Regions from separate parts of the Homo sapiens genome. Here region 2 is linked to region 1. The links come from fine-mapping of genetic effects on gene expression. Tissue or cell type: T cells. Region 1 holds a variant in brackets; the other region holds the start of a gene. All regions are shown on one strand. Distances are from middle to middle.

Region 1 (8,259 bases):
TTTCTGATGCTATACACACACTGTGTATATATATATATGTCTTATCTGTCCATCCATATATACATACATACGCATACATTTTCCCTGAATGATTCAAAGTTAAGTTGCAGCTAACAGTTTAGTTCATCTCAGGTGCTAAAGCATCTCCTGCGTAACCACAGTCCCTTATCTAACTGAGAAAAACAACTGTAATGACACGGTAATACCGACTTTGCAGAGCATCTTCAAATTTCGCCAGTTGTCCCAGGGATGTCATTTCTAGGAGTTTATGTAAACAAGGATCCAGTGGTGGTGCACCTGTTGCGATTGGTTGCCGTGGATCAAGTGGCATTGCAATGGGTTGCAGTGGATCCAGTGGCATTGCGCCTGTTGTGATTGGTTGCCGTGGATCCAGTGACGTTGCACCTGTTGCGATTGGTTGCCGTGGATCCAGTGACGTTGTGCCTGTTGGGATTGGTTGCCATGGATCCAGTGACGTTGCACCTGTTGCGATTGGTTGCCGTGGATCCAGTGACATTGTGCCTGTTGCGATTGGCCGTGGATCCAGTGACGTTGCTCCTGTTGCGATTGGTTGCCGTGGCTCCTAATGTAGACCACACCCTGATTTCATTTTTAAAACTGCAATCGACAGATCTGTGCCTTTTTTTTTTTTGCTGTTCTTGTCGTAAATAGTAGTGTAAGCAGATGCTCTCCTTTTCAGAACTTACGATTTCCAACGGCCCCAAAAACCACTCGGTCAATGAAGAAGAGCAGGAAGAACAAGGTGAAGGAAGCGAGGATGAATGGGAACAAGTGGGCCCCCGGAACAAGACTTCCGTCACCCGCCAGGCGGATTTTGTTCAGACTCCAATCACCGGCATTTTTGGTGGACACATCAGGTTTGTGCTTTTCTGGAATAACTTAATATTTGCCTTTTCTAGGGTTTTGCCATGTTGGTGAAGGGGGAAGGTGTGAGGCTTGTTTTGAGACTTCTTGGACGTAATGGTTTGCATCTTGCTCCCCTGCCTGCTCTTCTCTTGCACTTCCTGATGCTTCCCTTGTCAGCCCCCGTGGCTTATTCTCTCCCTGCTGGCGCATGTCTGCAGGGGACAGGGAGCTCCTCCCTTCTACTCTGTCAAGTTCAGCTGCTCACTGCTAGGGAGTAAGAGAAAAGCCAGCTAATTGGCCATACGCGGTGGTTCATGCCTGTAATCCCAGGACTTTGGGAGGCCAAGGCGGGTGGATCACCTGAGGTTAGAAGTTCGAGATCAACCTGATCAACATGGTGAAACCCCGTCTCTACTAAAAATACAAAAATCAACCAGGTGTGGTGACAGGCACCTGTAATCCCAGCTATTAGGGAGGCTGAGGCAGGAGAATCGCTTGAACCCAGGAGGCAGAGGTTGCAGTGGCCCAGATAGCGCCATTGCACTCCAGCATGGGTGACAGAGTGAGACTCTGTCTCAAGAAAAAAAAAAGAAAAAGATACAGGAGAATGTCATCATGACTTAGGGGTAGGCAAAGGTTTCATAAGATAGGTCATAAACAATAACCACGAGAGAGAGAGAAAAAAAAATATATATATATATATTAGACTTCATCTGCATTTAAAACTTGCAACATAAAACCACCTCCGGGAGGCAGAGGTTGCAGTGAGCCAAGATTACACCACTGCACTCCAGCCTGGGTGACAGAGCAAGACTGTCTTCAAAAAAAAAAACCAGCTAACCAAACCATGTGTTTTGGTAAGAGAAGACAGTGTATCTGGAGGAATTTTATTTATGTTAATAAATTGTGTATATTTAAAGTATACACAGATGTTATGAAATAGAGATAGTAAAATAGTTGCTACAGTGAAGCAGATAAACATATTCCCCATCACAGTTACCCTTGTGTGTGTGTGTGTGCACATGGCAAGAGCAGCTGCAGTTTTACTCATTTCACAAAAGTCCCAAATACAGTGCACTATGAGTAGCTCTTGTCCGATGTTCCACATCAGATCTCTAGACCTGTTCGCCTGTGTGGCTGCCCTTGGTGTCCTTCGACCGACATCTTCCATTCCCACTCGCCACCCCTAGGAACCACTCTTTTCCCTATCTCTGTAGTTTCGTCTTTTTTTTTTTTTTAATAAAGATTCCATGTATAAGTGAGACCATGCAATATTTTTCTTTCTGTGTCTGACTTCTTTAACTTAGTATAATGTTCCCCAGGTTCATTCCTGTTGTGGCAAATGGCAGGGTCTTTATTACAGCTGAATAGTGTTCCCTTGTCTATATATACACACCACAGTTTCTTTATCCATTGGCCCATCCACAGACAGTTGTTTCCCTGTCTTGGCTGTTGTGAACTGATTGGAAGCAGGTGAGGTAGAAAGTGAAGAGAGTGTGAAGGGAGGTCTTTTTTACACAGACAGACCCGTGACTGGGCTGGAGTCCCTGGGCACCTGGCTGTGTGCCAGTTCCCTTAAGCAGCTTTTTGCTCATTCACAAAGTCCTTCGGAAAGGTTTTTCTTTATTTACCTGAGAGCTTTTCAGTACCACTGTGATGTGGAATTCAGCAAAACTTGTACCATCTCCAAGAAGGTTTACCCATCGAAAGTACTGAAGAGGCCTCATTGGAGCCTAATTTCCTTTCTGAGGCCTTGCGGCATAACCCCCAGGCTGGTATTTCAGTGACACTCTTAGTCTGTTGTTGTCCCAAATGCTGCGTACCTGAAAGAAAGAGCACCCCTTTTGAGGCATCAAGACTTGATTCAGTCTCAGTTCTGAGACTGAATCAACAACTTTCAACAGGTGAATAATAAGAACCTCAGAAACCTGCGCTGACGCCCTCAGAAGCTGGTTTCCCGTCCTCTGTGGAAGTGGATTTAGAAGCCAGTTGAGCAGCCATGTGACCTTGAACAAGTCACTTCTGTGTTCTGCACTGTGAGCTCTATTCCACTGGCCCCTTTCTATTCTGGTGCTCTGTGGAGTGTCCACGGCAGCTGGGTGGTCAGTTGTCACCTGGGAAACACCCAGCCCTGACCACTGTCTGTGGTTCCTTGGGACACGTCGTGTTGGGAGGGAGACGCTGAGGTCCAGGTTGGCGCGCAGCAGCGAGGGAAGGCTGTGCCCTTTGCTCCTTCAGCCCAGCAGCCTGGTTTAGGATTGTGAGGACACCCCCTCGGGATGGGAGAGAAAGATGAATGGACAGCTCAAATGGAGGCATCGGGAACATGGTTTTTGTGCAGAGGCCGGGTATCAGAATTTCAAGGCCACAGAGGGTCAGCATACTCAAAGATCCCAAATTTGTCTAAGAGTAACCAGTGGAAAATACCAGCGTCCATTTGGAGGACTTGCTGGCTCAGATTGAACAGCTCTGTCACAGCTGCTAGCCACATCCTCTGAGGGGTCTCTGTGTTGAAATTGGTTGTTGATGTTTCTTTTTGAAAAACGGTAAAGCAAAGATAGGGAATTCTTACAACGTAGGAACTTCTTTTCAGCCATTGTTAAGCATGATTCTTTATTCACACCAATTGAAAGATTTACTTCTAAAACTCAGCCTCTTCAGATGTTTTTCAGTTTCC[C/G]CAGGAAGACTTCCCCGCCTTTCTTCCCCGGTGCCACCTTTGCTAAAACACAGGACCACTGAATCAAGAGGGCTTCTTGATTCTCCACCAGCTCTCATGAGCGGTTTCCCCACTACTGTATCCCTCTCCAGAACCAGGGGAACTGTTGTCACTGAAGTCTTCAAACTGTAAAGGAGCATGGAGATGCGTAATTAAACCCTGGACAGAAAAGCTTTTAGCGAGCTCTTCACCGCATCTGTTCTGGAAAGCCTGAGTACCTGTCCACACCCATTTTATTCCGTTGAGAAACTAGGTCACCGAGACTGCAGAAATAGAAGCCCTTGTTGAACCCCTGGAATGTTTCCTTGCTGAGGCTAAATGAGAGATGGGCCGAACACACAATTTTTACTCAGAAAAACTTAGAAAAAGGAAAAAAAAAATGAAATGAAAAACCAGCTAAGAAAACAAGGTCAAATTGGCGCCCTTCTTGGAAGGGTGGCAGCCTTTTTTCCTGGAATGTTAACTTGTTTTTTATTCTACACACCCTACTCCCCTTCTTCTTTTTGTAAGACATCTTTATAGGAGGAAAATGCCATTAAAAATCCTCTATTTACCTTGGGATTTCCTCTATTTTATTAGAACAGGCTATGATACTTGGAGAAAATGGAAAGCAGCAGCGTTTTGAGGCCATGGCAGGGTGGCTGCCTTTATGAACCGGTGCAGTAAATAACAGTGTGGAGAGGAAGTGAAAGAATTTGGAAAATGAAATATGTTTTCTTCCAGAGCACTGGCGTTGGGAACATTTATCAACTGGTAGATTTAGTTGTTAGAAATACTAAGGAGGTGCTATTCAGCAGAATTATTATTATTTTTTTTAATTTATTTTTTTATTGATAATTCTTGGGTGTTTCTCACAGAGGGGGATTTGGCAGGGTCATGGGACAATAGTGGAGGGAAGGTCAGCAGACAAACAAGTGAACAAAGGTCTCTGGTTTTCCTAGGCAGAGGACCCTGCGGCCTTCCGCAGTGTTTGTGTCCCTGATTACTTGAGATCAGGGATTGGTGATGACTCTTAACGAGCATGCTGCCTTCAAGCATCTGTTTAACAAAGCACATCTTCAGCAGAATTATTTTTAAATTCAGTATATTTTTGGCTTTTCTCTGTGGTCTTTTGAAAGTGATATTGAATAATCTTATTTTCAGTGTTTATTCCCTTGGTTAATCTTAAGGGAAAGTGGCAAGGAGTGGTCTCTTAATTTTTTTGTTTTTGCTTTCAATTCTTAGGTCTGTGGTTTACCAGCAGAGTTCAAAAGAATCTGCCACTTTGCAGCCATTTTTCACGTTGCAGTTGGATATCCAGTCAGACAAGATACGCACAGTCCAGGATGCACTGGAGAGCTTGGTGGCAAGAGAATCTGTCCAAGGTTATACCACAAAAACCAAACAAGAGGTATGTTCACACTTGATTTTGAACCTTTCTACTAAGGTGCTCTGGTTTGGTGGAAAGAACACAAAATTAGGAATGAGGGGAAATGGGTTTGAGTTATGCCTCTTAAATCAGTTGCTTAACCATTTTGTACTGAAAGTTTTTATGGTTTTACAATGAAATGGTTGAAACGTGATCCCAAGGGCCTCTTTTAGCTCTAAATCATATTACACAAGGTAATGATCTCCTTTTGGATTGTTTATCTTGAGCTACATTTAATTTTCTGGCAATCTAATGATGATATCACAACATCAATACTACCTCTGACAGAGGCCAAATAGCTTATTTATGTTCATGATACCGTAGGGTACAACTGTCATTAGATTAGTTAGGATGTCAGAGAGATTCCAGACACATCTGTTTTGCATTTGATTGTAGATCTTCCAGGTCATTGTAAATATAATATAGTCATTGTAAATATAATATAGTCATTGTTCTGATGCTTGTTACTCTTTGATTTGATCTGGAAAAGGTAAGATTCTTGAGTCTTTCAGTCTTCATGAATTTAAGAGTATCACATTATAGCTTGGTGGAGTCCTTGTCAACTCAGTTGGGCGAGACGGATAGCATTCTGCCCTGTGAGAGCTTATTAGTTCCTGGCTGTCCAGATGTGCCAGCTTATAGCTATTTTGTACTCTGCAGCAGAGAGTGTCTTCTCTGTTATATATCTTAGGTTGTGGCAGTGAATTCATAAAAATGCACTGGGGAGATGAATGCAGGCTGATAATTATGGACGGTCCATAGCATTCCTGCAAAGCGATATTTGAATAATGGGCAGTGGATGGCAGCTACAAGGTAAAATAAGGTGCCCCAACGTAGAAGACCTGTCATCACATTGCATGACTGGGATGGATCTATCCTTGGCTTATCTTGTGTGCTCTGAGTCAGAAAGAGCAAAGTAGGACATAGGGACCCTTAGCACCTTCGGGGTGTCCTGCTGTGGACTGGTTCACCCAGGCTCTGGGGGGATCAGTAGAAGTTATGCCTAATCTTCTACCGTATTTGCAGACTTGCATCTCATGGGTGATTTTGTTTAAAAAATAGAAGCAGTAGGAGCCAGAGGCAGAAACTTGGTAGTTGACTTCAGTGAATGAGCTAAGAAGAGTCTGGCGGTGGACCTCGTGGAAGAGAGAGAGGGAAAAAGTGGTATTTGTGTTGGGGAGGTTGGTTGGGTGGTTCAGTTGTGCATTGTGGGTGACTGTCGGCTTGGCTCACTTCTGTGGCAGCTGCAACTCCAGAGATAGCTCCCTGGCCCTGGCTGCTGGTGCACTCTGCTTATGCTGTTTCTTGAGCCAGCTATGGGAGTCTTTGGCCACCCATGCTGTTGGGGAGGTGGTCAGCCTTTCCATGGGCTGCCTAGGGAAGACCCTTTTGTGATGTGTCTGTTTTTCTCTTTTGCTTCTGCTGCAATTACAGTTTGACTTTGCTGGGGTGGGCTGGTAGGGGTGGCGGTGTGGGGGCAGGGGTTGAGGCGCAGGTAGTTGTTAGCCTGTTGTTAGACGGTAGTGAAGAAAGAATGGTTTATCCTAAATAGCAGGTTTGGATGAAGGCTTCCAGAAAGAAGGCGGGCCAGGTGTGGTGGCTCACGCCCTTAGTCCCAGCACTTTGGGAGGCTGAGGCAGGAGGATTGCCTGAGCCCAACAGTTGGAGGCTGCAGTGAGCTATGATCACGCCACTGCACTCCAGCCTGTGCGATAGTGAAACCGTGTCTCTAAAACATAAGAAGAAATAAAAATAAAGGAAAGCTGGCATTTTGGTGGACTCCGGAAGATAAAAAGGATGCTGCCAGCCGTTCTGGGTGCGTGGTTGTGGTGGTGTGTTACCAGATGAGGCCAGGACCACTTTCAACAGCAGATGTTTCAGGAAGATTTGGGACAGCTTGTATGGAAGTATCTATAAGGAGCAAATTACATATTTTCTTGAATGTGTTTTTTTTTAAGTTTTTAAAATGCCACCTTTAACTTTATTATGTTTTAGATCAGAAGTATTTTTCTGTGGGAACATGTGAAGGTTTTGGGGAAAATAGGATTATATGAAATATTTGCTATATAGAAAATGTCTGCCTTTGTTGAGTGATTAGAAATTAAGCCTCAGTTGGCTGGGCGAGGTGGCTCACACCTGTAATCCCAGCACTTTGGGAGGCCAAGGCGGGTGGATCACGAGGTCAGGAGATCGAGACCATCCTGGCTAACACGGTGAAACCCCGTCTCTACTAAAAATACAAAAAGTTAGCCGGGCATGGTGGCAGGCGCCTGTAATCCCAGCTACTCAGGAGGCTGAGGCAGGAGAATGGCGTGAACCTGGGAGGCGGAGCTTGCAGTGAGCCGAGATAGCGCCACTGCAGTCCGGCCTGGGCGACAGAGCGAGACTCCGTCCCCAAAAAAAAAAAAAAAAAATCTCCAGTGGCTGATGCCTGTAATCCCAGCATTTTCGGAGGCTGAGGCAGGCGGATCACAAAGTCAAGAGATCGAGACCATCCTGGCCAACATGTTGAAACCCCATCTCTACTAAAAATACAAAAATTAACTGGGCATGGTGGTGTGCACATGTAGTCCCAGCCTCTCAGGAGGCTGAATCACTTGAACCCTGGAGGTGGAGGTTGCAGTGAGCTGAGATCGCACCACTGCACTCCAGCCTCGATGACAGAGCGAGACTGTCTCAAAAAAAAAAAAAAAAGTGTTATCCAAATGAATATGGGAAGCATCAAAGACTTTGTAAGTACAGAGAATGATAAAGGGATTGTTATTTGTAAAGATGCATCTTAGTGACAAAAAACCTGGCTTTATTTAAAAGCAGCATTCATCAGACCTGTGAAAGTACTTCAGGAACAGATTACATTGATAAAACTCATGATTAGAATAAATAGCTTTAAAGGTTATTTAAAACATCTAATTGGCCTGGAATCCCAGCACGGTGGGAGACTGAGGCGAGCAGGTTGCTTAAGTCTAGGAGTTCAAGACCAGCTGGGCTCATGGCTGTAGTCCCAGCTACTTGGGAGGCTGAGGTGGGAGAATCACCTGAGCCCAGGAAGTCAAGGCTGCAGTGAGTCCTCATCATGCCACTGCACTCCAGCATGGGCAACCAGAGTGAGATCCTGTCTTAAAAAAACAAACAAACAAAAAAACCCACCTAATCCTACTGGTATCAGTTTTATCAATACTATCAGAGTTATTTTAAAATGGGTCAATACTAGGCCTAGCGTGGTGGCTCACGCCTGTAATCTCAGCACTTTGGGAGGCTGAGGCAGGTG
Region 2 (8,000 bases), 67 kb before region 1:
ATATATCCACAGGTTCTGAGGTTGGGGCATGGACATCTTTGAGGGGAGGGGCATTATTCTGCCCATCACACCACCTTCTACAAAAGATTCACAGAAAATGTAGGTAACTTGCCCAGGTTCACACAGCTAGTGAGTGGGGGATTCCAGATTTGAACTTGGGCCTGTCTTGACTCCAGGCCTAGGCCACTGTCCCCAGACTCATGGGAGATACCAGGTGTATTAGTCGGTTGTCATGCTGCTAATAAAGACATACATACCCAAGCTAGGTAATTTATAAAGCAAAGAGGTTTAATTGACTCACAGTTCCACATGGCAAGGGAGGCCTCACAATCATGGCGGAAGGCAAATGAGGAGCAAAGTCACGCTTAACATGGCGGCAGGCAAGAGAGCTTGTGCAGGGGAACTCTCATTTGTAAAACCATTAGAGGCTGGGCGTGGTGGCTCACGCCTGTATTCCCAGCACTTTGGGAGGCTGACGTGGGCAGATCACTTGAGGTCAGGAGTTCAAGACCAGCCTGGCCATCATGGTGAAACCCCATCTCTACTAAAAATACGAAAATTAGCCGGGCGTGGTGTCACATGCCTGTAGTCCCAGCTACTCCAGAAGCTGAGGCAGGAGAATCACTTGAACCCAGAAGGCGGAGGTTACGGTGAGCTGAGATCCTGCCACTGCACTCCAGCCTGGGCGACAGAGCAAGACTGTCTCAAAAACAAAAACAAAAACAAAAACAAAAAAACAACCAAACAAACCAAAAAAACCACACACACACACACACACACACACACACACACAAACATTAGATCTTGTGAGACTTACTCACTACCATGAGAACAGTATGGGGAAAACCACGCCAATGATTCAATTATCACCACGTGGCCCCACTCTTGACACGTGGGGATTATTACAATCCAAGATGAGATTTGGGTGGGGACACAGCCGAAGTATATCACCAGGCTCTGCTAAGCACTGAAGGCCATAGTGCTTGTTCATAGCTTCCTTTTAACATCTATTTCCTTGTACTGAAGGTATGTGTTCATATCTATGTGAATTATTTGAAAATGAAGACTGGGATCTTTTTTATTTATTTATTTATATATTTATTTATTTGTGAGACAAAGTCTCACTTTTGTCCCCCAGGCTGGAGTGAGATGGTGTGATCTCAGCTCACTGCAACCTCCGCCTCCCGGGTTCAAGCAATTTTCCTGCCTAGGCCCCCCAGGTAGCTGGGATTACAGGTGCCCGCCACCATGCCCAGCTAATTTTTGTATTTTTAGTAGAGACGGGGTTTCACCATGTTGGCCAGGCTAGTCTCGAACTTTTGACCTCAGGTGATCCACCCGCCTCAGCCTCCCAAAGTGCTGGGATTACAGGCGTGAGCCACCGTGCCTGGCCTGGGATCTTTTGTTTATTATCACTTTTATTTGTTGTTCAAGCAACTGTATGATAAAAATCAGACAAACAACTATATATATATATATATATATATATATATATATATATATATATATATGTTTTTTTTTTTTTTTTTTTTTGAGACAGAGTTTCACTCTTGTTGTCCAGGCTGGAGTGCAATGGTGCCATCTCGGCTCACTGCAACCTCTGCCTCCCGGGTTCAAGCGATTCTTCTGCCTCAGCCTCCTGAGTAGCTGGGATTACAGGCGCCTGCCACCACGCCCGACTAATTTTTGTATTTTTAGTAGAGACGGGGCTTCACCATGTTGATCAGGCTGGTCTTGAACTCCCGACCTCAGGTGATCCACCCACCTCAGCCTTCCAAAGTGCTGAGATTACAGGTGTGAGCCACCGCACCGAGCCAGAGAGACAACCATAAATCACTAGTGAGTTTTCACGTCCCCCAGTTTCTATCCAAGTGCAGATATCGCTTTTCCATGGTTAAAATTATAGCACAGACACTATATTGTATTGTTTTCCCCAATTTTTTGTTATAAAAATTTTCAAACATAGAGAAAAGCTGAAATATATAGCACTACTTAGAGCCAACAATAGTAAACATTTTGCCATATTTGCTGTCTCTCCCTGAATGTTTATGTGTGTACATGATTTTATCTTTTGTTGAACCATTAAACAATAGTTTACAGGCATTATGGCCTTCACTCCTCAACTCTTCAGAATGCATCTCCTCACAATAAGGACATTCTCTCAGTGAGCACAGTATAATTATTACACTATAAAATTACCAATAATTCACGAAGATCACCCATATCCAATCCATATTCAAATGTCTCCAATTGTCAACAAATAGTAAAACCAGCTTAAAAGACATATCAGGATCCAAGCAAGATGACACATTGTATTTGGTTATGTTTTCTAGCTCTTCTATTTTGGAACAACCCCTCCCTACCACTTATATTTTTCTTTTCTTTTCTTTCTTTCTTTCTTTCTTTTTTTTTTTTTGAGACAGAGACTCGCTCTGTCACCCAGGCTGGAGTGCAGTGGCACGATCTCGGCTCACCGCAACCTCCGTCTCCGGGGTTCAAGTGATCCTCCCACCTCAGCCTCCTGAGTAGCTGGGACGCCTGGTGTGCCACACTACATCCCACCAATTTTTGTATTTTTAGTAGAGTTGGGGTTTCATCATATTAGCCAGGCTGGTCTCCAACTCCTGACTTCAAGTGATCCGCCCGCCTCGGCCTCCCAATGTGTGGGATTCCGGGTGTGAGCCGCTGCGCCTGGCCCACTTATATTTTTCATGGCATCCCATTTATGAAGAGACCAGGCTCCCTATTTTATGTAACGTGGGAATGGATCTTCCTGTTCATCTCCTCTGCTCAGTGTACGGTCTAGCAAGAGCAGACTCTCTGTAGGTGTTTGTTGAATAAATGAAACCAATAGTAATGGTTATTAATAACAATCCCAGTAGCCAATTTTTATTGACTATTCTCTTGGCCAGTGTGCTCACGTTAATCTAATTTGAACCTCACAGAAATCTTACGCGTTATGACATATTTGTCTTATTCACAGGTGAGGAAACCAAGGCTTAGGGAAGGAAAGTCGCTTGTCTGAAATCACAGCTAGAAAAGGGGCCAAAACCCAAGGGTGGACCCACTGGCTGGAAAACAGTGCAGTTAGGCAGGGGCCCCTGTTTCTTAATAATGAATGAACCAACGACCCCCAAGGCTGGTTTGCCCGTGCACACGCACGCACGTGTGCAACACGTAGCACTTGCTGAGTGTTTGCTACTTGCCAGGCCTCATGTCAAGCACTTTACGCGTGCTTTTATGCCCTACGTTTTGTTTTTGTCTGTTTTGCTTTTTTCCCCTAATGCCTAGCCAAAGGCGTGGCCCAGGCGCCCAGGCAGGACTTGGGGAGTGAATGAAGAGTGAACAAATGAATGAATGCGCGGCAACGGGATCTTCATAAACCAGACCCTCCTCGGGGATCTAATGCGAACACTCCCGAGGCCCGGGCCCAGGTACGCTGAGGGCGGCTCGTGGGCCCCAGGCCGACCTCAGCCCGCGACTCCCGGGCTCCGGGGGCCCAGGTGGCCCCCAGTAGGTGAGGAGCCGGGCCCGCCGGCGCCTTGGCGTTGCCACCTCTACCTGCCTGCCCTCTCCCCTTCCGGATCCACAGCCAGGCCTCGGCGGGCTCCTGGTGTGCAGCCGCCCGGCCGCTTCCGCCCGAGGGTCGCGGGGCTCAGAGTCCGGCAGGCTCCAGGCGGGGCAGGGGATGTCCGCGGCCCGGCAGGCGCACGCCCACCTGTCGGCCGCGCAGGCGCAGCAGCGGGCCGGCCTCCCCGCGCCCCGCGGCGCGCGGCCAGTGCGCAGGCGCGGCGGCCGATGCGAGTGTGTATGTGCGGGCGAGAAGATGGCGGCGGCGGGGGAAGCAGCGTGAGCAGCCGGAGGATCGCGGAGTCCCAATGAAACGGGCAGCCATGGCCCTCCACAGCCCGCAGGTAGCCGCCGGTCTGCGCCTTCGGCCGGAAGGGGCCCGAGCCCCGGGCGGGCGGACGCCGCGGCGGGCGGGCGTCCGCGCCCTGCCCGGAGCGAGCGTGTGGGAGTGGGGGAGGGCGCTGGGACACGCTGCCCGGGCCTAGGCCGGAGCCACCCGCCGCCTCCGCGCCCGCCGCGCCTTCGTCCCCTGAGCCACCCGGACCCCCTAGTCCCGGGGAGGTCGAAGGGCGGGGGCTCCGGGCCCCGCTTGGGGAGGGCGTGGAGGGCGCCGAAGGGGTTAACCTCCCTGGGGCTGGACCGCGGGGCGAGCCCGGGGTGTGGAGTGGGGCCCTCCCCGCCGCGCCGGCCGGGGGAGGCGGCCCGGGGGCTCCGGGAGTCCCCTGGAGCGCAGGGGCCCCAGAGCAGCTCAGGTTGCTGCCTCTGCCTGGAGCGAGCCTCAGAGATTTGGGGGTGCCCTGTTGCCCCTTTGCCCCAAGAGCTTCCTTTCTCAGCTTGATTGATGATGCGGGGGTTGCCGATTTTCTGTTTTTTAGATAGAAGTAGCAGAGTAGCGGCCTTGGGCTGCTGTTGCAAAGAAAACTCGAAATAAGTCGCAAGGACCGTACTTTCACTTGCGTTTGAGTGACATCCCTTGCACGAATCCATCCCAGCCAGGCTGACAACTAACGCACCCTGCCTGAACAGTAGCTAAAGCTTGGGGGCCCTTTACAATAATCCCGTGGTGGAAAGAAAGAGCTCTTTTTGGGAGATGTGCGTGTAGAGTTAAGCTCTTATTCCCCTCTCCCACCCCTTCTCTCACATCTTCTCCCCCCTCCGCCATTATAATTATTCTGGACAAAAATCGGCATGATGTATTATTTGTCAGCCTTGCTTTAGACTGCTAATTTGTTGACATCTGGTCCCTATAAATTGTTGCACACTTTTAAACCATCTCATTGTGTATTTGTATTAAATATGGGGAAATGAAACAAAGTAGCCATTCGGGAAACTGATTGCGAGTAAAATCATAACCCTTCATGAGCAATTGGGTTTTGTTGCCCTTCTGCAGATGAAGTCAATCTGACTACACCTCTTTTGAAACATGATTTTCGGAACTATTGTAATGAATGCGTGTTGTGGAATCTAAAATGCGAAAACTTTTTAAAAAATTAGATCTTACGACAAGCTTCAATTTTGTTAAATTAGCTGTAGTTTAGTTTGCATCAGAATTTCCCCCTTTAACGTTTTGTTCCCTTATTCATTTACTTTTGTAAGTAGTGTAGGTCTTTGCGCCAAAAAAGGGATCAGTAGTTGAATAATTTTTACAAATGTATAGCCCAAAGATTTTAAGAGATTTGGTGTATTTAGCTTTGTTTAGACCTTTCTGTTAAAAAAAAAGATTTGATATTTGCTTTTTTCTCAACTTAAATCCTAATTAACTAGCTTATTAGAATTGGTATGAACAAGTAAAAGGCTCATTATGAATTAATGTGTAATATTCCTTGTGATTTTGACATGAAGAAAGCATCTTTAGGCATAGCTCACTTCCTTTATTTAATAAGCATCAATCACAATTCAAGGTTGATTGAAATGTTAATTAATGGGGATGGATAATATGTAAACTTAATTGTAATTTCGTTTGCATTCATTGTCCCAGTATTTACGTTTTATACAACAGTCTAAAGCGTTATACACATCTTTAGAAAATTGGAGTAGCAAAAGTTGGCGGAACGTAAATGTTAGCAACACTTTGGGTTTATTCTTTTAAAGTATGATTTAAATGCTTTTAAGTTTTAGCATGGAGAAAGTAGCAAAGGAAATAGTTTGATTTCTCATAATTTTCTTCTTCTTTTTTTTTTTTTTTTTGAGTTGGAATTTGGCTCTTGTTGCCCAGGCTGGAGTGCTGTGGTTATTAACCTATAAACTTTTTTATTTATTTTGAGATGGAGTTTCGCTCTTTTTTTTTTTTTTTTTTTTTTTTTTTTGAGACGGGAGTCTTGCTCTGTCGCCCAGGCTGGAGTGCAGTGGCATGATCTCGGCCCACTGCAACCTCTGCCTCCCGGGTTCAAGCGATTCTCCTGCCTCAGCCTCCCAAGTAGCTGGGATTACAGGCGCCCACCACCATGCCTGGCTAATTTTTTGTATTTTTATTAAAGACGGGTTTCACCATGTTGATCAGGCTGGTCTCAAACTCCTGAGCTCAGGTGATCCACCCGCCTCGGCCTCTCAAAGTGCTGGGATTATAGGCGTGAGCCACTACTGCGCCTGGCCGATTTCTCATAATTTTCATTTTAAAAGAATAGTAATGCAAACAAGTAATGGAATCATGTATGACAGGATTTAGTTACTGGTTCCTGCTCCAGTCATTCTGAGCGTTTTAATAAATTTGTTTTACTTGGTTGCCTACTGTCCTAAGAGTCTTGCAGCCTTAATGGCCATTCATTCATTCAGCAAATACTGATTGTTTATCAGATATTAAGCGTCATGGTATGTATATTACTTGTTTATGTTGGGAATAACAACTGCAAATTGAAGGTCTTATTTTAAAATTGACTTGTTAAAGTTAAATTTGTCACTGAGAATAATGGGAGGTGGAAAAAGTTACAGTTTAAAAATGTTTACAGGCCAGCGCGGTGGCTCGTGCCTGTAATCCCAGCACTTTGGGAGGCGCAGGTGGGTGGATCACTTGAGGTCAGGGGTTCGAGATCAGCCTGACCAATATAGTGAGACCCTGTCTCTACTAAAAATACAAAAATTAGCCGAGTGTGGTGAAGCTCGCCTGTAGTCCCAGGTACTTGGGAGGCTGAGGCAGGAGAATCGCTTGAACCCGGGAGGCGGAGGTTGCAGTGAGCCGAGATCATGCCACTGCACTCCAGCCTGGGCGACAGAGCAAGACTCCCGTCTCAAAAAAAAAAAAAAAAAAAAGAGCGAAACTCCATCTCAAAATAAATAAAAAAGTTTATAGGTTAATAACCTTATTTCCAAATATTAGAAAGTGTTGGTTGATCCCTGTTACCTGTATTGAAGTGTAATAGTGAAGAATTTGGAAACATTTTGAGACCGGTAACTCAGCATTTTAGCAAAGACAAATAAATGAACTTTAACAGTTGAAGTGTAGGTCCAAGTGAATATCCTTGTCACTGAGGGGACCGGTTAAATTATTTGGGGTAATTAATTTGAAGCTATTAGTTTTGCCTTACACCGAAAAAATATTTGTGATTATTGATGTCATTTATAGTGAAATCTCCACAATAATGCTTCCTACACCCAATTTGAATGTCATGCAGTTGGCTTCTGTCCTTGTCTCTGCATAGACTCACCCCAGTCTCTTTTTTAGCTTGTAATAGCAGATCCTCCACATTTTACATGATGGAAAGTCTTGGATTCCCCCTCTAGCATATGGCTGAATGTTACTGTATTGCTGAATATCTGTTTCTAGCCAACAGCTGGATTAGTGTTAATTCTTAAAAGAGATACATTTTTATTAGAATCTCAAGTAATGAGCAGCTGAAGTAAATACAATTGTTTGAAATGTTGACAGGGCATTTGGAGATAACAGTTTTCCTTTGCATAGTGACAGCAAGCTATTTAAACATGTCCTAAGAGTAGATGTTTTAAGTTTGTGAGCCAGTGGTCACCTTAGTGGTTTGTACAGATGGCCTGAGAAGTTTGTGAGCCAGTGGTCGCCTTAGTGGTTTGTACAGATGGCCTGAGCAGCCGCGCCGTACCAGGACCTCACCATCATGCTCTTGAGCCCATCTCATTGAGAGCACAGCGCACTGAAATTCCAGTGAATACTAAGCGGGCCTACCACATTCTAAATTCCTCACTAAAGCAAAAGTTAGGACATGTATTCCAGTGTTCTGTTACGTGGAACTGATAGGATTTAAGCAGTGATTCACATAGGAAAACTTAAAGGAGAAAAGGATTACGAAGCTTAATGATTGCTGTTTAATGCCAAGCCTAAGCGGCACGTTGCACTGTGCTGTGCTCAGAATATAACATTCAAGTAATTGAGAAAAGTGGTATCATCTCCAATTGAATTAGTTACATCAGGGTTTTTGTTTCGGTTTTTTGTTTGTTTGTTTGTTTTTAAAGATATAATTTCA

The links. PIP is the estimated chance that this variant, and not a neighbour inherited with it, causes the effect.
Region 2: USP10 starts here. The variant in region 1 is fine-mapped to the expression of USP10 in T cells (TOPMed, PIP above 0.99).

The regions. Positions count from the first base shown.
Region 1 is chr16:84,763,386-84,771,644 of GRCh38, forward strand. USP10 (ubiquitin specific peptidase 10) reads left to right here. Exons shown (of 14, transcript NM_005153.3): 10 at 701-878; 11 at 4,808-4,973. Among named protein-coding and RNA genes, the nearest start is that of CRISPLD2, 52 kb to the right of the region's middle. The variant C/G (reference allele first, on the strand shown) is at 3,545.
Region 2 is chr16:84,696,198-84,704,197 of GRCh38, forward strand. It overlaps USP10 (ubiquitin specific peptidase 10), which reads left to right and starts at 3,803. Exons shown (of 14, transcript NM_005153.3): 1 at 3,803-3,914. The coding sequence starts at 3,894. RefSeq lists silencers at 3,275-3,794, 3,885-4,104, 4,115-4,224, 4,265-4,374.